2 separate regions of the Homo sapiens genome follow, and region 2 is linked to region 1. Evidence: fine-mapped expression QTL. A gene starts in region 1. The other region holds a variant in brackets. All regions are shown on one strand. Distances are between the middles of the regions.

The links.
Region 2: its variant is fine-mapped to the expression of KIF21B in whole blood (TOPMed, PIP above 0.99).

The regions. Positions count from the first base shown.
Region 1 is chr1:201,020,115-201,032,157 of GRCh38, forward strand. KIF21B (kinesin family member 21B) reads right to left here and starts at 3,600. Exons shown (of 35, transcript NM_001252102.2): 1 at 3,229-3,600. The coding sequence starts at 3,269. LOC101929305 (a long non-coding RNA gene) reads left to right here and starts at 3,835. Exons shown (of 4, transcript NR_188464.1): 1 at 3,835-3,971; 2 at 5,390-5,505. RefSeq lists silencers at 977-1,126, 3,007-3,056, 3,457-3,816, 4,168-4,325 and enhancers at 1,357-1,486, 1,795-2,402, 8,447-8,741.
Region 2 is chr1:200,993,963-201,001,962 of GRCh38, forward strand. It overlaps KIF21B (kinesin family member 21B), which reads right to left. Exons shown (of 35, transcript NM_001252102.2): 10 at 6,755-6,818; 11 at 6,428-6,646; 12 at 5,921-6,002; 13 at 5,387-5,504; 14 at 4,422-4,613; 15 at 2,234-2,433. Among named protein-coding and RNA genes, the nearest start is that of KIF21B, 26 kb to the right of the region's middle. RefSeq lists an enhancer at 6,140-6,640. The variant G/T (reference allele first, on the strand shown) is at 4,688.

The sequences.
Region 1 (12,043 bases):
AGACTAAAGGAAGGAAGCTTAGGGAAGCCAGGCAGAGATAAGAGGGGAGGGGGCTAGGCAACACTGAGGTCTCCCCTCATGGTGGGGGCTCAGAGCTGGGGACTTGAAAGGGTCTTAAACAAATTTGCCATGTGACTTAGCTTCCTTCCCCAATTTCAACTTTGCCAACTTGCATTTCTTAACAGCTACCCCTTTCTCGCCCCATTTGTCAGGCCTATATCTCTGCAGCCTGGGGCAGGTCACAGCTCCGCCCCACCTCTCTCTAGCCTTGCTACACACCTCCTCCCCCAGGTGACTGCCAGTTCTAGTCCAGCCCAGGAAGCTGAGAATCTTTACAGTACAAGGGGATTAATGGATAAAGGGATCACAGGGCAGGCTGGAGAGGCCAGCCTGGGAATCCCTTGGTGCAAAGCCGACTAGCCTGGGTTCAGGGACAGATGGGCCAGATTCCATCTAGCTGGGGAGGCCACAAGGTGGGGCTTTTGGGGTCTGCTCACCCCTGAACTTTCTTCCCTTACCCTGAGCCCCAGGTCCTGAAAGTTTCCTCCTCCGGCTCTCCAGGAGCCCAGGCCTTCACTGAAGCGTTTCACAGCCAGCCAGCTTCGATCTCTTCATCCCAAACAGATTGCAGGGCCAAGAGCCTTAGGCCTGGCACTTCTCACCTAGTCTAATAGCCCTGGGACCTCTCTCCTCTACACACACACACACACACACACACACACACACACAATCAGACCACACCTGTCTCATTCCTGGCCTTCCCTGTCTGAAGAGCTGGACTCCAGGCTCGCTATGTTATTCTCATGGAAATTCAGAAGGCACTTCAGTTGGATTCAAGAAAGGACTTCCAGAAAGTCAGAAAGACAGCTGAACCTGGCAGGAGGTAGTGAGCCCTGGGGCTGGACTAGGCCCTGGACAAGCCTTGCCCTTCCCATAAATGGTCTACTGTAGTGCAGCCCACCACCCAGTCTTTCAGGTGAGAGAAGTGATTTCTGGGGGTGCTGCGGGGGAGGATGGGTAGAAGAGGATCTAAAAACAAGGAAAACTCCCCCTACAGCCCATCACTGGTACCATCTGCTCTCCTTCCCAGCCCAGCCCAGCCCCAGCTCAGTCCTAAGCTCTCTGATTAGAAACTGGGTTCTGTCCAGGCATTGTCTGCTGTACACGGCCGGCTGCCCATTGAGGTCTGGCGTGTGCCGGGGCTGGGCGCTCATGCTGGGGTGGGAGGGGAGGAGTGGGCGGGGCCCTTACCTTCCCGGAGACCCTGAAAGCCTGACTTCTGATGCTCAAATGCCCCACCCCCAATCCAGATCAGCAACTGAAAGGCAAGGCGTGGGGGCACCCAGACCCCACTTAGGGCAATCTGACTGGGAACCAGAGATGACACACATGGTCCTGAACTGGGTGCAGAGGGCAGGCATGATCCCTTCTCTGCAGAAAGGGTCCCGGGAAGCTTCTAGAGGTGGCAGTGGGAAGAGAACATCAGCTTCTCCTCACTGTGCCAATCCCATGAGGCTCCCCGGGTGGGAGTCCCACATCTTTTCAGCCCCAGTCCAGCCTGGAGACCTGAACAGAGGTAGGGGGCCTTTGTTTAGCTCTCTCCAGCAAGATGGAATCTAAAGGAAACCCCCTGTGGAAAGGGCACCCCCAAGCCCCTTCCTTCCCAGCCCTCATTCACAATGGGTGGGGGCCAGAGCTTCATTTCCCTTTTATGGTGTTCTCGGACTCTCCCAATCTGCTGCAGATGCCATATTTACATTTCTCACTCCCACCCCCCAGCCATGCACCCCTCCCTCGACCTCCACAAGATCCTGCTGCAATGTCAGCCCCAGCAGCAGCCTGGCCCCGCCCCAGTCAGCCCACCAGGCACCTGCAGGGCTCCTCTTTGTCTCTGGCTGCTCAGGGCCAGGAAAGCTGTGCTCAAGTGATTCTTGAGTGCTGCCTAGGGTGCATGGGTGGGGGTGCCTCAATCTCCTTCCCTTCACCCAAGCACTGATCAGTGTCAGCTCCTCTTTGGGCTGCAGAGGCCTGGCCAGGTGGCCGTGGCAAGGGGCATCTGCCCTGGGGCAGGAAGAAGAAAGCTTTTTCATTGCCATCTCTGACTCTGTCTAGGAGCAACCTCCTAGGACCCCTGGAATCTGGGTCACATATGACCCAAGGGATCTAGAGACCTGAGAGACCTACCCTAGACCTGGACAATCCCCCGCCCCCTCCATCATACAGGGCTGGGGCAGAGATAGATGTTCTTGCCACATCCCTACCTTGGTGAGCAGCTCCAGATTGGCACTCTGCCGCCAAGACACCCCTCTCAAAGAGAAAAACCCAAAGCAAAAACTGGGAGAAGTGGTGAGGTGTGAAGCATCTCCACCCAGCACAAAGAACACAGATGGCTCAATTTCACAGCATTTCCTGCTCCTGCACCTTTGTGTACCCCTCCCAATAGAACCCACCCAGCCATGTCCTCTCCCTGTCTCATTTCTGCCGGCTCAAGTCCCGGAGCTGTTGAGAATGGAACCCCAGATAAGTCTAGGCAACCCTCCCCTGCTCAATTTTATCTGAGTGCCTGAGGATGGGGCATCTGCATCACACCCTCCTGCCCTCTCAGAGAGAAGCACCTCAGATACACCTCTTCCTCCCTTCCTAGGCCCATCTCCTCTTGGGACAGGACTGGTAGGATTCTCCCCCAAAGCCATTGACTTCCCACAGAAGGCCAAGGCATCATCCCAGCTTTTCCGTTGGTCCCCGCACCCGATCTTTGTCTGCAGATCTGGCTCCCAGGGTGGGTGTGCTGCCTTTGCTAGCTGGACCAAGAGCACATAACTAGCTGACTCGCATGGATGAGGGGAAATTTCCCTCTCTGGTATCCCCGTATGAGACAGCAGCCTCGTGGGGAGGCGAAGAGGAAACGCACAGACGCTCCGGCCTGGGCCAGAGCTGGGTGTGAAATACCGGATTTCCTTGTTTATTCGATTTTCTGATCATTAAGGGCTCCCAAGAGGGGCCCAAAATTACCACCCAAACAAAGCCACCTTCCAGTAGTCGGCGGGGTCGCCGCTCCCCTGCGGCAGACTGGCCAGCGCGCGGCGCCCTCCATCCCGTCCCACGCCGGCCCCTCCTCCGGGAGTGCAGGCTCCAGCCCAAGCGGTGCTCGCGCCCCCCGCCCAAAGCCCACGCGAGACAAAGCCCGAGGCTTCTCCGCGCGCCCCCTTCCCCGCCCCGGGTCCCTACCTGACGGCCACCTTGACGCAGCAGTCCCCCTGGCCGGCCATGGCCCTCTGGAGCTAGGGTCTGGGCGTGGATCAGAGGCGGGGGTCTGGGGGCCAATGCCCGAGGCAGCGGCTGCGGCTGCGGGAGGCGGGGGCGCGGGCGCGGCTGGCGGAGGCTGCGGCGGCGGCGGCTGGAGGTGACATGCTCGCGGGCGGCAGGCCGAGGGGCTCACCCGCGGCCGGCCCCCCGGGGCTGGGCCCGCGCGCCTCCTCGCGCCATCGGGCGGCGGCGCGGAGCTAGCTGACAGCCGGCGGCGCGACCCGCCGCTCCCTACGGCGCGGCACACGCGCACACACCTCCCACCCGGCAGCCACCTCCCGCCGCAGCGCGAACAAAGGGGGCGGGGGCCGATCCGGCCCCGAGCCCGCCCCGAGCCAGCCCCGAGCCCAGGCCGGGCCCCGCCCCGCCCAGGAGCCGCCAATCGAAAGCCCTAATGAGCAGTGGGGGCGGGACTCGCGCCTTTAAAGGGACCTCTTGGCTCGCGGCCACGGGGTGGCTGGGGGTAGGGGGCGGGATTGAAGGGTGGGGGTGGGGGTAGGGGTGGGAGTAGGGGTGGGGGCGCTGGACGCAGACCACGTTAGAACCTCGGCTCCTGGAGTAGCAGAACCTCGGCTTCAATGGGACCCTCATTTCATAAATGAAGAAACTGAGATTCAAAGAGGGGAACTACCGAAGGTTACAGAGCGAGTTCGTGGGTAAGCATGGTAAGAACCCTGGTCTCCCGGGGATCCCACAGCGATTGACGGTTTATAGTTCAAAAGAGCCAGGAAAGCTTCCCTTCTGCATTTATTCCAGTAAATTCGCCAACCCTTCTCGAAGGGAGTTCTTGCTAGCCCCTAACTAAAATTTCCCCCACCTCCACCCTGCAGCATCTTAAAGCTCATGTTTTAGTTGATTCCTGGCCAGGCTCCTAGCCCAAGACTAGCCCCTCCCTACTGCTAGACGACTGTCCCATTGACCTTTATGACCCACAGATGACCCCACTGGGCCTGGCTCACACTCTGCTTGTTGTGGCTGTGGGGCCAGAGGGTCAGTGTGGGAGGCCTGAGCTGCCCTGGGGGAAAGGAGGGAACAAAGGGGGCCCTCAGTTCCGAGCACCTGGGTAGAGAGGCTGGGCGGTGAAGTGGGTGGGGAAGGGAAGGAGGGCAGCTGCCTGCAGGAATGGGTATAAAGGACAAGGAGGACCATGGAGACTTTAACGCTGGGCCTGGATGGAGGAGGAGACCAGTGCTGCAAAGTCACAATTCCCTTCCCAGTCCATCTCCCTCCCTCTGAGCCCAGACGCCTCTTCCCTGCCCCCTGCCTCCCAACATTGGGGCCATTCACAGGGCCCCTCACCAGCTGCCCTCACTTCACCCAGCTCCCTCCCCTGGAAAGGGCCCAAGAGGAGGACCCAGCTGCAGCCCCAGATGTGGATGGGGATCTCTGGGGGAGGGGAGGAAGGGGAGTCTGACTCCAGGCCTCTTACATTACCCTCAGATGATGAAACCATGTCAGAGATTTTGGCAAGGGTGTGGACTGGGGTCTGAGGATGCATCTGTTGGTACCATCTTCCTCCCCTTCCCTCCTCCACTCACACCCCCCTCCCCGCCAATAACTGCTTCATGCAGTAGCTCAGATCCCTGTTTGGCTTGACCTATTAAGGTCAAATCAAAACCAAAGATAATTTCAAGGGCAAATTTCAAGGGCCAATCAACACATCCTTTTCATCCCCATGGCAAACAGGAGGAGCACCGCCAGCAGTGCCCCCATGATGGGGGCTGGAGAAGAGGTCTTGGTGGTATCCTGGACCTTTTATTAGCATTTGAATCTAGAGGAAGCTCTCCCTGGGGCCAGGGGATCACCTCTCCTGGACCAGGAGGTTAGCAGAATGTTGCAGTCATATCCTGCAACATTCCTCCCCATCTTCCAACCAAAATAATTCGTGGGGAGGAGACTAACACATATGGACCACCTACACAAGGTATTTTATGCACATATTCTCATTTTTTCCCTATAACCTTGTAAGCTAGGCTTTTTTATTCTTTTTAAATTTTGCAGATGGGGAAACTGAGCCTCACATGTATGAATTCCAGCATATAAGCAACAGACTCCAGATTTGGACATGTATATCTTATTCCAGGCTTCCCAGATGACCACCAAGGTGGAAGGGATGATGATGTCCAGGCAGAAGGGAGCTAGGCCGGCCCAGGCTTTTCCTCTAGGCACAGCGGACTCCAGGTTCAGCCTTCCCGGATGGTAATGTTGCATTCTGAAGAGCTACTTTCCCGCCAACTCATCTCTGGACTTCTCTGGGGCCCAACTCTGGTTTCCTGCCTGCAGGAGGTCCCCTCTGACTTCCGACAGTAGATGACCCTTCTGACTCACAGTTCTACTGCTGGGAAATGCCTCCAGAGCTGCTGCCCACCCTCTCTGCATCCCTCCAGGTCACTGGGTGTTGAGTCAGGGGAAGCAGGGATACACACGGGCGGGAAACTCAGGTCTCCTAAATGTCAGAGCCTCAGGACTTCGGCTACTCAGAAGTAGCTCCCTCCTGGGCCACCAGGGAGCAGCAGGGCAGCCAGCATCCAGACATCCCCCCTGGGTTCTGCTGCTCAGAGGCTAGATGGAGAACCAAGGTGGGAAAAAGGCTTAAACCACAGCGTGGGGAGATTTAGGTTAGATGGGTCAGAGGAAGTTTAGGACAAGCCTTGCCCTTTTCAGTTTCTGTCCAGCTTCAGCACAGCCACTGCTTCCTCTCTTTGGTTTTTACCCATCCCCCTCTCTCCCATCACCTCTATCCCCTTCCAGCTTTCCTTTCCTTCCCTCCTTCCCAAACCCCAGAGTTTCTCAGGATTAGCTGCCCGTGTGCCTATCTCCCCCACCCCCATGCTTTCCTCACTGTCTCACAGAAACAGGCAAACACACACACATGCATACAACCATGAGCTGGCCCTGAGAGTTCTCTGACTGGACTGGGGTTGGAGCCCCAGCTCTTGTCCTGAGCTGAGGCCCTTCCCCCAGGTATCTTGGGGCTTCCATCATTTCTCTTGACAGGAGCTGTGGGCGTCTGGGCAGATGGGAACCTGGGGGAGGTGTGGGGAGCCCTCTCTGAGGCAGGAAGCTCCCACGCTACTGTAGTTAAAATAATCCGGCAGCAACTTGGGGCAGCCATCTGGGATGCCCAGATCTTCCAGGACACCCAGCTCTCAACAACAACCCTATAGGAACAAATCAAAAACCTAAGAGATACTTATAGGCCCTGGAAATGTCTCCCAAAAGTGGCCTGAACTTGAGCCCTGTTTCCTTTTATCTTCTTCAGGTTAGCACTGGGCATTGGCATTTGCAAAAAAACTCTAAGCATTAAGCAAAACTTGTAGGAGTGGAAGATACAGCGTTCTGGACCTCCAGTCCTAATACCCAGCCACACCCCAGCAGCTATGCATGGTTCCATGGGAGAGCAGGCATAGCCCATCCTGCTGGCATATAGTCCAGCCATATCTTCCAATGCCCACCTGGAGACTAAGCCGAGTTCTGCCCAGCAACAGGAGCTCAGAGCTCCAGAGAGCCTCTCCTGGGGTGCAGACTCAGGAGATCTTAGCTCAGGAGCAGACTTAGCCTGACTTCCTCTTTTATAGGAGGAGACAGACTTAGTTACAGAGGAAACCAGAGTTGTTATAAATAGCAAGGAAGGGAGAAACCTGCTATGGATTACAAACACGCCATCAATCTTAAAACAAACTATTTTTAGTTTCAAATAATAACGAGAGTCTAATTAATGCTCTGTATAACTTCAAATGTGGGATCTTTATCTGCCTTTCTACTTTGTGATGCTTTCTAATACAGTATTAGGGCCAAAGGCAGGAAGAGATGTGGGCAATTCTCAATGTTACCAAATCCTAGATATGGAAAGAACCTGAGAAATTTAGTCCAGCCCTTTCATTTTCAGTGAAGAAACTCAGGCCCAGAGAGGTAAAAGGACTTGTCCAAAGTTGCATAGTAAGGTAGGGACTGAGCAGTGACTAAAAGCCTAGTCCCTGTACTCCAGAAGCAGGACAGTTTCCACAGCAGCACAATAGAACCCAAAGGCTAAACATCTGTGGTTGGGCAGTTGGTGAGTTTATAGCCTGGATAAAAGTCAGGTCTAAGCCAGGTGTGGAGGCTCACGCCTGTAATCCCAGCACTTTGGGAGGCTAAGGCAGGTGAATCACTTGAGGCCAGGAGTTTGAGACCAACCTGGCCAACATGGCAAAACCTCATCTCTACTAAAAAGTACAAAAATTAGCCAGATGTGACGGCACATGCCTGTAATCCCAGCTACTCAGGAGGCTGAGGCACGAGAATCGGTTGAACCCGGGAGGTGGAGATTTCAGTGAGCCGAGATCGCACTACTGCACTTCAACCTGGGGGACAAAGCAAGACTCTGTCTCAAAAAAAAAAAAAAAAAAAAAAAAATTCTGAATGAAATAGCAAAAGACAGCCCAGAAGCTGAAGTGTGGTCTTCTGAGTCACCGAGTTTTGGGTTCACATCCCAGCTCTGCAACTGACTAGCTTTGTAACCCTGGGCCTGTGTGTAACTACTCCAAGCATCAGCTCCCACATCTCAAAATGAGAATAATCACACTCACTTCATTACAGGACTATTATGAGGTTTAAATGAGGTAACGTGGGTCAAGCATCCAGCACAGTGCTCAGCAAAAAATAGATGTTAATTTCCTTCCCATTTCCCTCGGATTCTCTACCCCTTCTTCAATGGATTCTTATCCTCTAACTGGACAGAAGGGCAGATTTGTCATAAAGCAGTCACGTGAGGGATAAGAAGTCTCACATGAGTGTGAATGAGGCTGGGGGTGGGGGCGTAGTTTATGGCAATGAAGTTTGCATGGCACAAGTGGTCAGTGTCAGATCCAGAGGGCGGGAGAAGACAGATTTGCAGAAAATTATCCATCCTCTGCTAACCACTCAGTGACGGGCCTCGGGGTTCAGGGTCAGTGTTTACAGGGGAGGAGGGAGGCTGGGCATGCTGGGTCCTCATTGTACACAAATACCCCGGGCCTCAACCTCACCCATGTGCCACACTGTGCCAAGGGTGTTACATAACATTTCTCTTTTAATCCTCACAACAATCTATGAGGCAAATACTGTTCTCGTCCCCATTTTGCAGAAGAGGAAATGAGCTCAAAGGTCACTTGGCTAGTGTATAGTCATTAGTGCTGTCTCCAAATATTTCCGGCTCTCTGCCTTCTGGCACAAGGTAGGACTGCATGTTCTCACTCTTTGATGCTAGCTGTGGACATGTGACCAACTTTAACCAATAAAACGTGGCGGAACTGATGTGCGTCAGCTCTAGTGGAAGCATTAAGACTCTGGCACCCTCACACCTATGTTGTTCATAGAGTGTAAATGAGAAATAAACTTTTATTGTTAAACCACTGAACTTACAAGTTGTGTGTTGCCACGGCAAGCCTGGCCTACCCTGACACAGTTAGGAAGAGGCAGAGCCAGAGTTCGGAGGCCTGGTCTGTAAAGATGCCAGATGGCGTAAGTACCTTCCAGAGACTGACCTGCTTGCCTAAGACACACAGGAGCCCCTTTTTGGGCTACTTAGAGCCCTGTGGGGCAGGGGAGGAGGGTAGGCAGCCTCCCTACCCTTATCTCTTTCCCCCCGATTTGACTGTGATTTTGCGGGGTTTCCAGGTTGCTGAGCCGGGGGGACTGAATAAATGAGTGTGGTTTTGTATGAACCCTTAGGGGCTCATAGTCTTCTGGTTGGCTGTGCTGAGCTACTTATCAGGACTCTCTAGGAGACACTCTGAGAAGTAATTGGAAAATTCCGACTTCCTCTCTGCCCATCACCCAACTAGGAAATAGTTGGGTATCAGGACACGCCTGCATTCACTCCCAAATCAAAGATCGACCCTGTCAAGTCACTCTTTGCTTTGGGACTCAGTAACTCCTCTGTGAAATGGAGCCACTTCAAAGGGTTAGGGTAACTGCTCGGAGATTCTAGAGGAAGCCCATTTCGGATTGTATAGATCTTCTCAGAGGTGCCTGCAAAATAAGAACAGCTACTATTTCTGAACATTGTGCTGGGCGTTGCACTAAATGCTTCAGATCCATACAGTCATGGAATGCTCACACAACCCATGGAGGTAGGAACATAAAGAAAACCAGGACACCAAGAGGGGCACAAGGTCACACTGCAAGTGGTGGGCAGGGTTCAAACTCAAGCATGCTGCCTGCCAGTTTCGTCCTCTGCTGAATTACAGGGACGGAAAAGGATGAATCTTGTCTTGGCAGCTGCTGAGCTGCCAAGAAAGTGAGCACAGCTCCCTAAGGAATTATGTGCTTCACGTGTCTACATAAAGACTTGCCCATGAAAGACCCCAGCAGCTTTGTCATAGGCCCAAACTGGAAACACAACAAATGTCCATCGACAGGGGAATGGATTAAGAATCTGTGGTGTATCATATGGTGGGATACTATTTAGCAATAAAAAGGAATGAACTATTGATACATGATACAATATGGATGAATCCCCAAATTAATTATGCTCAGTGAAAGAAGCCAGACCAAAAAGAGCACATGCTGTACAATTCCACTGATATACAAATTCTAAAAAATGTAAACTATAGTGTCAGAAAGCAGATCATTGGTTGCCTGGCAAGGGGAGGGAACTGGGAGGGGTAGGAGGGCATGAGGGCATGAGGAATGTTTTGAGGTGGTGGGTATATTTATTCTTTTTTTTTTTTTTTTTTTGAGACGAGGTCTTGCTCTGTCACCTAGGCTGGAGTACAGTGGTGCGATCATGGTTCACTGCAGCCTTGAGCTCCCTGGGCTCAAGGGATCCTCCCATCTTGGACTCCTGAGTAGCTGGGACCACAGGTGTGCACTGCACCACCATGCCTGACTCATTTTTGTATGTTTGTAGAGACGGTTTCACCATGTTGCCCAGGCTGGTCTTGAACTCCTTGGCTCAAGCAATCTGTCAGCCTCAGCCTCCCAAAGTGCTGGGATTACAGGCGTGAGCCATTGTGCCTGGCATATTTATTGTCTTGATGGTGGTGATGCTTCCATGGGTGTATGCTAATACATTTGTCAGACTAATCAAATTACACACTTTGAATATGTGCAGATTATTATACATTAATCATATTAAATACCTCAATAAAGCTGTTGAAAAGTAACTTGTCCCAACTTCTTCTTTGTTCAAACAGAGGTGCAGAGTGGTTGGTGACTTCTCCTGGGCCATGAGGACAGTCAGTTAAAGTCCTGGCTACCTATCCCTGAGCCCACATATCCTATGGCTTCACGGAAGGTCCCACCTCCCAAGAAGGGGCTAGTGGCAGGGAAGTTGAGAAACAGAGAGACGGAAAGGTGGCATAAAACCAAAGAGGGGGACACTGGAGAGGAGCCAGCAAGAGGCCAGGCTGGGGATGTCAGAGAAGAGGAAAACAGAGATGAAGCCACAGGCCTGGGGACAAGGGAAGATGAGAGACAGGAGATGGAACCCCTTCCCAGACCTGGTGATGAGGAGGAGGCTCTGAGCAGTCCTAGCCAGGCCCCAGAGAAGCCATTCCCTTCCTTTGACAGATGCCACCTGTGTACGCCCCTGCCCGCGAAGAAGTTAACAAATCACCACCACCACCCTGCCCTGGCCTGGTTGCTGTTGACGTTCAGTCTCCAGGATGCATCATTTTCTTGGATTTTAATAGATAATTGCCTCGGCCAGACCCTGCAGAGCAAATTGCCAGCAAATGTTCATTGAACACTTTAAAAATCGAGGGGAAGAGGAGAGGGCTTGGAGGCAGCATGTGGGGAGAGGTCAACCTCTAAAGTGCCAGCTCTCCAGAAATGCAGCCGGAATGAAGGTTTGAAGGGATGGTAGTGAATGGAGCACTCCAGGCAGTGTGTGTGCTGAATCTCAGGGCGGTTTTAGGAGCACTTCAAAGGCCTTTTTGACCAAGATATTCACGTTGGCCTGAGGTGAAACAACTCTTAAAAAGTTAGTCTGTGTCCTCCCTGCAACCCTTGTATTTCCTGACACTTGTATCCGTAGACAGAGGAGACCCTTTGCCTTAAGGAGAATTTGGGAATTAGGATCTAGTGAGGATGCGGAGAAGTAGGAAAAGGTCCTTTTTTCTCTTTAACTTCTAAACTCGGAGGATCCAAATAGCAGGCCAGGACTGGGTGGAGCAAAGACTTTAAGTCATAACCAAAATTAAAAAGAACGTAGAGGAAGAGGCCCTTTTCTCCTACCCTCTAGTGATGAGGGTCCCTTGGCCTGGAAAAGGGGAAGGAGGAGATAGGGGGCTAGGCCTTGAAGGAAGTCAAACCCTAAGACAAGAGGATCAGATTTGGGGTGCTGTAAGAGGCGAGGGAGGTCTTCCTGGAGAGACAGTCAAGCTCTGACAGTGGCTGGTGCTAGAGTGGCTGGGCCCCCACCTGCAGACCACTCCACATTATCACTGAGTCAGCTTTCGCCTCCCCGCTCAGAGGGGACTCAGAGGGGGACCTCTCAAGGTGGTCTCAATGAGAAGAGGTACAGAAAGCCCCCATCAATTTTGGTCTGTATACTGCCTAAGAACCACCCTCCTTGGTAAGCCCCCATCCTAACCCTTTTGTGTGGTAAAGACACATGTAAACTGTCCCAAAACAAAAGACAGAGAGCAGAGACTACCAGAGGGTGAGTGGAGGTACTTGGGTGGGTCTGGCTAGTGGGGAAACACCCTCATTATACCAGGTGAAATATAAAGTTACCATTTTGTAGACAAGAAGGCATAGAATATTGGCAATT
Region 2 (8,000 bases), 28 kb before region 1:
AACAAGTCAGACCCTCGGCTAAAAGTGGACCTGAAAACTCCAGCATCCCAGGAGCTGTGTGCAAACCCAAGGTGTCAGGTGTCTTCCGGGGTCAGGGGCTTAAGGCTTCCTGGGGAGGTGCTATGTCTTCCTGGTCAAAGACTCATCCACCCGACTTTGCATGTGTAGCCAAGCACCATGGTGGCTACCACAGAGGCAAAGGTCTCAGAACAGGTGAGCACATTCCAGGCACATGACAAGCGGAAACATGCCACGGTACCCGAGACCAGCATCACTTCGCAGGTTTAAGGTAGAAGGCATTGTGGCCTCTCCCTGGGAGACCCCGTGGCTGCAGGCCCCACCCCAGTTCCATTCTGTGAATCGCTGGGGCCCTGTAGCTGAACAGCCATGGGAGGATTCTGGGGCACTGGCTCTCACAGTGTCTGATTTGAATCCTCGGCTGCTGCACCTTCTGTCCCTCCAACAGAAAACCTAGGCCCCTCCTGGGATGACCCAAGGGTGTTCCTCTCTGCTTCTAGCTCTGGGTTCATAAGAACACTGTCAATGTGGACAGAGCCAGGCACGTGGCTGAAGGAGCTCAGCAATCCAGAGACTGAAACACAGGTCTACACATGAGCCTTCTGTCAGATGCATCTTGGCGTTACATTATTTGCCAGGCTTCAGAGCCATACAAGGATCTTCCCTCATGAGGCTCTCCAGGGCCTCCGCAGCTGAGATGTGAGCTGGCCAGGACACGATGGGGTACCCTGCAATGGCATCAGCTGGGAACTCCCAGGGAGACAGAGTGGGGACGCACATAAGCGCACCCCAGAAGCTGCAACAGCATGTGCAGGCCCCTGTTGGGAGTGCTGCTCCACCCCAGAGATAATGAAGGCCCACCAGCCCCTCCCTCTAAACCATCAGTGGGTGCAGGGGCCCTTGGGTGATCTGGGTACTTGAGTCCACACTTGAGTCTCAACACCCCACAGGGTGAACGCACTGAAGGAGATGGTGCAAACAGGGCTCCTTGGGGCCAGCCCAGGCCAAGCAGGTCTGAGCACAGCAAGGCAGGGACTTCTCCACTCTAGTCAGGTTGATGAAGCCTCCGGACCTGCAGCCCAGGCTTGGGCACAGAGCCTGCCCAGGTGAGGTGGCTGGGCCTCAATGACAGCTATGGGTCCACCACCTCTTCTCAGAATCTACATCAGCCACCACTGCATTGCCTCTCTCCTCTGCACATTGAGTCGGCTGTGAGCATGTAGCTACCAATGGCTGCTAGATGCCCCATCAGCCCCAGGCACTGGGGAGCTCCCCTTTCCTATGTCTCTGTCCCCAAGGCCAGCCCTTCACAGCTTACTGGGGCTGCCACCAGTGCCCAGGGCCTAGCCCAGGGCTGTGGGGATCTGGGCTCCACTGAGGGCTGAGGATCAGAGCAGGCAGGAATGTAGGACTTGGAAGGTCCAAGGGGAGGGAGGACTGAAAGGGAGCATGGATCTGCTGAGCCCCAGACAGGAGCCAGAACACACCAGACACTGGAAACACAAGACTTGAGCCCTGAAGTCAGAAGCACAGGGGCAGGCCCCAGGCCCCAGAGACTAGAGCACTCTGAGTGGTGGCAAAGTAGAAAAGGGAGGCATTGTGCCACCTGGAACACACAGTGGCTTGGGAGCCAGAGAACTGAGTTCAAATCCCAGTGCTACCTCTTGGAAGCTGGAATTAACTTCTCTGAGCCTCACTTTCTCATACATAAAAGAATAATAATAGACTTCTTTCAAGAGGTTCTTCTAAGGACTGAATGTGATCATGCGTGTGAGATGACTAGCCTGGAGCCTGGCCATAGTAAATGTTCAAACGATGGTAACTGTTACTATTATCACTCAGGGCCAGGTTGCACCAAATGAGAGGCCTCATGTGCACTTTGCGCAGACCCGAAGCGAGTATGCTGCAGCCTCCCCAACAGGAGGCAGCACCAAGTGGGGTCCCCTGAAATCCTCACCTGCCCTGAACACGACCCCTGTGCACCCCAGCATCCCCGCACACTGGCCCCACTACTGGGCAGGGTGTTTCACCTTGGACGATGCACTCAGCTAAGAGGACCGTGTCAAGGGCCAAGACAGGGTCAAACTAGGTTAATGCTGTGTGTTGAGAAGAGAATCCACACTTGACAGCAATGATTATTTTTACGATGGTGAGTGGATTCTAAGAAGATGTCACAGGCACTCCAGGCCCCACTCCTCACACCCTCGGCCCCTACCTTGGCCTTCTTCATCTCAGCCACCTCGGCCTGTAGCTTCTTCAGCTCCCTCTCGTAGCGCGACTGGTTCTTAAGCAGCCGGGCGTGCTCTTTCTGGGCGGCCTGCAGCTTCTGCAGGTCCCGGTTCATCTCCCGCAGCCTCTTCTCATAGTCTGCCTTGATCTTGTTGGCCTTCTCCTCAGTATAGCACTCCATGGTGCCTGAGAGCAAGGAGACGCAGCTGTCGGTGCTGGGTCCCTAAGGGCTCCCACTAAATACAGGGTCATCAAGGGGGAACGCAGGAACCCTCTGTTCCAGTCTCATTGTATGACCTTGGGCAAGTCACACCCCTCTCTGAGCCTGTTTCATCATTTGAATGAGGGGGTCAGACTAGTTGATGCCCAAGGCCCCTTCCTGCTCTGACATCCTATTGTAATGGGCAGGGGTGTTTTCATCTTAAGATCTCTGAACCCCTGGTCCCCAACTTCCCACGAGGGTCCTGTAACTCACTCATGCTGGCTGGGTTCTGACCCATGATCCAGTGTTGGAGGAAAGAGCTGGGGCCTGTGGGAAGGGGAAGAGTTTGCAAGAGAAGACAGAATGGTGTGGGCCAGGGCAGAAGGAATAAGCTGATTCTCCACTCTTGGCCTCTCCTACCAGAACTACCAACAGACATCTCCAACTTAACAGGTACAAAACCCAACTCCTCATTTCTACCCCTCTCCCATCTCAGTACACAGCATCACGCTCCTTCCAGAAGCTCACACCCTGAGGCATCCTTGGCTCCCCTCTCCCTCACATCTACCTCCCAGCAAGCAATCAACAAAGCCTTCTGGCTCAACCTGAAAAACATATCCAGAATCTGACTTCTCACCACCTCCTAAGCCACCTCTCCTGGGATCTTTAGAACAGTTTCCTAAGTGGTCTCCAGCTTCCACTTTCACTCCCCCATGCAGCAGCCAGAGTAGTCTTTTAAAAATGCTTTTAAATTTGGTATCACGTAGCTCTCTTGAAACTCCACACATCCCGTCTCCCTCAGAGTATAAGGCAATGTCCTTACAATGACATTTCTTCTCCGACCTGTCCCCTCTCACTGTGCTCTAACCATCCTGGTCCCCTTATCGTTCTGCCAAAATGCCAGGCACATGGCACCCTTATGGCCTTGGCATCTCCTGTTCCCTCTGTCTGGGACGCTCTTCCCCTGGTTGGTGCTGCTCTAGCACTATCAACTCCTTCAAGTCTTTGCTCAGTGAAGTCTTCACGACCATCCTTTAAAAAACTCCAATTCGGCCAGGCACGGTGGCTCATGCCTGTAATCCCAGCACTTTGGGAGGCCAAGGAAGGCGGATCACAAGGTCAGGAGTTCAAGACCAGCCTGGCCAATATAGTGAAACCCTGTCTCTACTAAAAATACAAAAATTAGCCGGGCGTGGTGGCGGGCGCTTGTAGTCCCAGCTACTCAGGAGGCTGAGGCAGGAGAATCGATTGAACCGGGGGTCAGAGGTTGCAGTTAGCCGAGATCACGCCACTGCACTCCAGCCTGGACAACAGAGAGAGATTTTTGATTTGTTTTGTCTCAAAACAAAACAAAACAAAACTCCAACTCACTCTTCAGTAGTTCCTGTTCCCCTTCCTGGCTATACTTATCACCATTTGACACACTATAGTTTCTGCTCTTTCGTTTATGTTTGTCTTTCCCCACTAGAATGTATGCTGCACGAGAGCAGGGATTCTGTCCACTCCAATATCTCTAGCACTAGAACAATGTCTGCTCTGTAAGACATATTCAACATGTGTTTGCTGAATAAGTAAATCAATGAATGAATAAAAAATGGAATGAATGGGCTGAAGAGCAGCATAATGAAGATAGAATGTAAGAACGGTTACAAACAGGTCCAAAGGAAAAGACCCAAGGAACTGAGTGCAGGAGGAAAGGCTGGGAGTGTCATGTTCGCGTGCCTAGGTATATAAAGAATTCTAATACATGACGTGATAGCAAAGAAAAAAAATCAATTTACAATGTTTCATAGGAACTAGGGTTAGACGTAAGAACCTTTAACTGTGGGTCAAAGGACCACAGTCAAAGGTTGGGAAGTCCCTTGCCTAGAAGGCCAGGATAACCCCAACACACCAGCTGCTTTTGACAGAGGAGGGGCTCAGGGAAAAGGGAGGGTCCGGATGGGGTGGAGGGGCATGGCGGTGGCCTCACTGAGGTTCTGCAGCACACGGTCGCGCTCCAGCTGTGTGTCTCGGATCTTGTTCTGCAGCAGAATCAGCTTTTCCTCATACTGGTGCTTGAGCGTCTGCAACCGCCGCTGGCTGTTCTCCAGCTCGTCGATCAGCTTCTGCTTGATTTCGATCTCACAAGTCAGGTCGGCCAGGTCCGCCTGGAAGTTCACCTCTATGGGGGCACAATCAGGCTCAGCCCAGCGTTAGGGCGAGGGGCAAATTGGGGAGCAGATGTGCCAGTGCTGG[G/T]GAGCTGGGACCCTCCTTTGGTCAGCCATGACCAATCAGTGACCAGAGACTGGGCAAAATGATAAATCCTAATGCAGGTAGAATGCGGCCAGAAGGAGGAACACATTTAAAGAGCAGTTCCAGAAAGGCAAGGTAGGGCTCAGGAGCTGGCAGGGGGGATCTACACGTCCTTCCCAGCCATTCGAGGCCAGCATCCACCTGTTCCAGATGACATGGGACCAGCTTCAGTGGAGGAGGGTGAGATGGCTGAGAGCAACTTACAGGGCTAGGGCCAGGGCTGGCAGCAGGCAGGGCTGAAGGGGCAGGCATCTCCATTTAGAGGAGAGGGCTTTGGCACCAGTCAGGCCTACATTCATGTTTGCTCTGCATGGACCACACTGGGGAAGGTCACTAAACCCCTGTGAGCTTGTTCCTCTGTGGTGATATAGGGAAGCTCACCACCCCTATGCATACAGTTGCAGTGAAGACTGAAAGAACCTAGCCGCTCAAAGGGTTAAGGTAAGCACAGTGCCTGGCACCTAATGAACGACCAGGAAGTGTTTGCCATCATTCTCATCATGACTGCCTGTTGTCATTGGTTTCACGTCTGGGAGTGCTGGGGCCTGGACACCATTATCTTTGAGCAGGGCCCGACCCCACACTTGGGCACTGGCAGCCAGGCATTGCATCCCCCACAGCCCACAGCTCAGGCCCACGCACCCTTCTCCTCGGGGTCTGAGTCTGAGTCCACCAGGCTCTCTTCACTGCCCGAGTCCTCATCTTCATCCTCGCGCCCTTCCTCCTCCTCACAGCCACTCTCGTCTCGCTCTTCCTCCTCCTGGGCACCAGGCACCATTGGGGTGGGCCTGGCCTCAGAGAGGGGAGCCCAGAAGCAGAGGTGCATCCCGACACAATGCCTCAGGTGTGTCAGGAGGGTGGGGATTGGGGCAGGCCACAGCTGAGCCCCCCTGCCCACCCCCTACTCCTGGAAGAGTGCCGCCTCCCCCAACACCACCGCAGAACCCCTCTAGGAGGGCCTCCCCACCTGCATCATCCGTTTGGGATGAGGTGGGGTCCTAGGGGATGGAGATCACCATGGTAACCAGTCAGAGATATAAGGAAGTACAAGGATCAACTGGATGCAGACCCAACCGCCTCCTTCACTCCATACAAGGATGCGGATGGGGCCCCCGCCAACCCCAGCAGGGACACAAGGCATGCATGTGGTGAGGTGGGGCGGCCCGTGCTCCTCACCTCCTCCGCCTCGTTCTCATCCGTCTCCTCGCTGTTCTCCTGTTGGAGTTTTGCCCTCTTTTTGAAGGCTTCCTTCTCGGGGCTGCTCAGGGAGGACAGGGAAGCTGGATTAGGAAGGCTGCCCCTGCCCTGAGCACATGGGCAGGACGGCGGCAGCGGCAGAAAAGGAAGGCTCTCACCAGAGGCCGGGGAGAGCACTGGCTCCTACTCTGCAGAGAACCCCACTGCTCTTCCCTAGGGCCACCCAGAGCTGACCTTGGCTCAGCTCAGTCCTTCCTCTCCTTGGGGGAAAGCAGATGGCATAGGAGAACGTGGGGGAGGGAGGTTGCCCAAAAGGCTGAGCAAATCTGCGCCATGAATTCCCAAGCAATACTGAGGCAGCCCCTGGGGCTGGGGGCGTGGAGGTTCCCTCCTAAACACTGGTGGGCAGCAGTCCTCCTTGGGGACGGGCAGGGTCCACTGGGGCGGTCTGAGGGCTCTCAGGGGCGGGGACGACACTCCACTCACCTCTTCCTCCGCTGCCTGACCTCCTTCTTCTTTAGCCGCTCCAGGTCCTGCTTGGCCCTGCGGATCACCTCCGAGGCATCCTCCATGGAGCTGGCAGGGCTGCCCCCGAAGGCCGGGGCGGCTGGAGAAGCACCCAGGGAGTAGGGGCTCCTAGCCGAGGCCCGTGAGAGGCTGCGGCGCAGGGACTCGTTCATGGCTTCACTCTCTAGAAGCTTAGTCCTGCACAGGAAGAACGAGTGGACGGGGCCGAGTGAGCTGCCACAGCCCTTGGCGTCACCTGGCCGAGGCCCCCAGCCCGCGCACACCTGCCGGAGCTCACTCACTCACCGTAGCTCCTCGATCTCCCGGATGTAGTTCTGGATCAGCGCACCAATGGCCTCATTGCCATCGCCTGGAGTGGGACGGCGGGAAGAAGGGTGCGATAAAGAAGATAAATAGGCCAGCGCGGTGGCTCAGACCTATAATTCCAGCACTTTGGGAGGCCAAGGCGGGCGGATCACCTGAGGCTGGGAGTTCGAGACTAGCCTGACCAACATGGAGAAACCCCGTCTCTACTAAAAATACAAAATTAGCCGGGCGTGGTGGCGCATGCCTCTAATCCCAGCTACTCGGGACGCTGAGGCAGGAGAATCGCTTGAACCTGGGAGGTGGAGGTTGCGGTGAGCCAAGATCACACCATTGCACTCCAGCCTGGGCAACAAGAGCGAAACTCCGTCTCAGAAAAAAAAAAAAAAAAAAGATAAATAGCAGCAAGGGTCTTCAACACCACTGATACTACTGCTCTTATATCTGTGCCTCTAATAGGGCAGCTCATATGGGCCTTTTCCAAAAAGAAATCTATAGAAAAAATACTTTGCACAGAGGTATACAAGCACTGTTGGCAATAGCAAGAAACTGGAAACAACCTAAATGCCCATCACTAGAAGGCTACTATAATAAATTTATTCATCATTGTCACATATGGGACACCATGGCAGAAGATGAAGAGAAGTAGGTTTTTTTAAATTTTTATTTTTTGGTTAGAGCCAAGGTCTTGCTCTGTCGCCCAGGCTAGAGTCACAGCTGACTGCAGCCTCAGCCTCCCGGGCTCAGGCAATCCTTCCATCTCAGCCTCCCAAGTAACATGAACTACAGGCATGTGCCACCACATCTGGCTAATTTTTGTATTTTTTGTAGAGACTAGGCGTCCCTATGTTGCCCAGGCTGGTCTCAAACTCCTGGGTTCAAGTGATTCTCCTGCCGTGGCCTCCCAAAGTGCTGGGATTACAGGCGTGAACCAGAAGTAGGTTTAATATGGAAAGATTTATAAAACATAATGCTAAATGAAAAAGGGAAGTCTTAGAGCAATATATATAATCTCATACATAGAAAAAGTAGTCTATATCATACACACATTTAAGAATGTATATGAATACATATTCATACTTGAAACAAATACTGAGAAAGGTGTGGGAAAATACACACCAAGCTGCTCATAGAGGTTCCTTCTGAGAAGTAGAGAGGGCTTGGGGTGGAGGGTTCAGGGAGAGGCGATTTTAATCTTTCACTTCATATAGTGATGTATTGTTTGCAT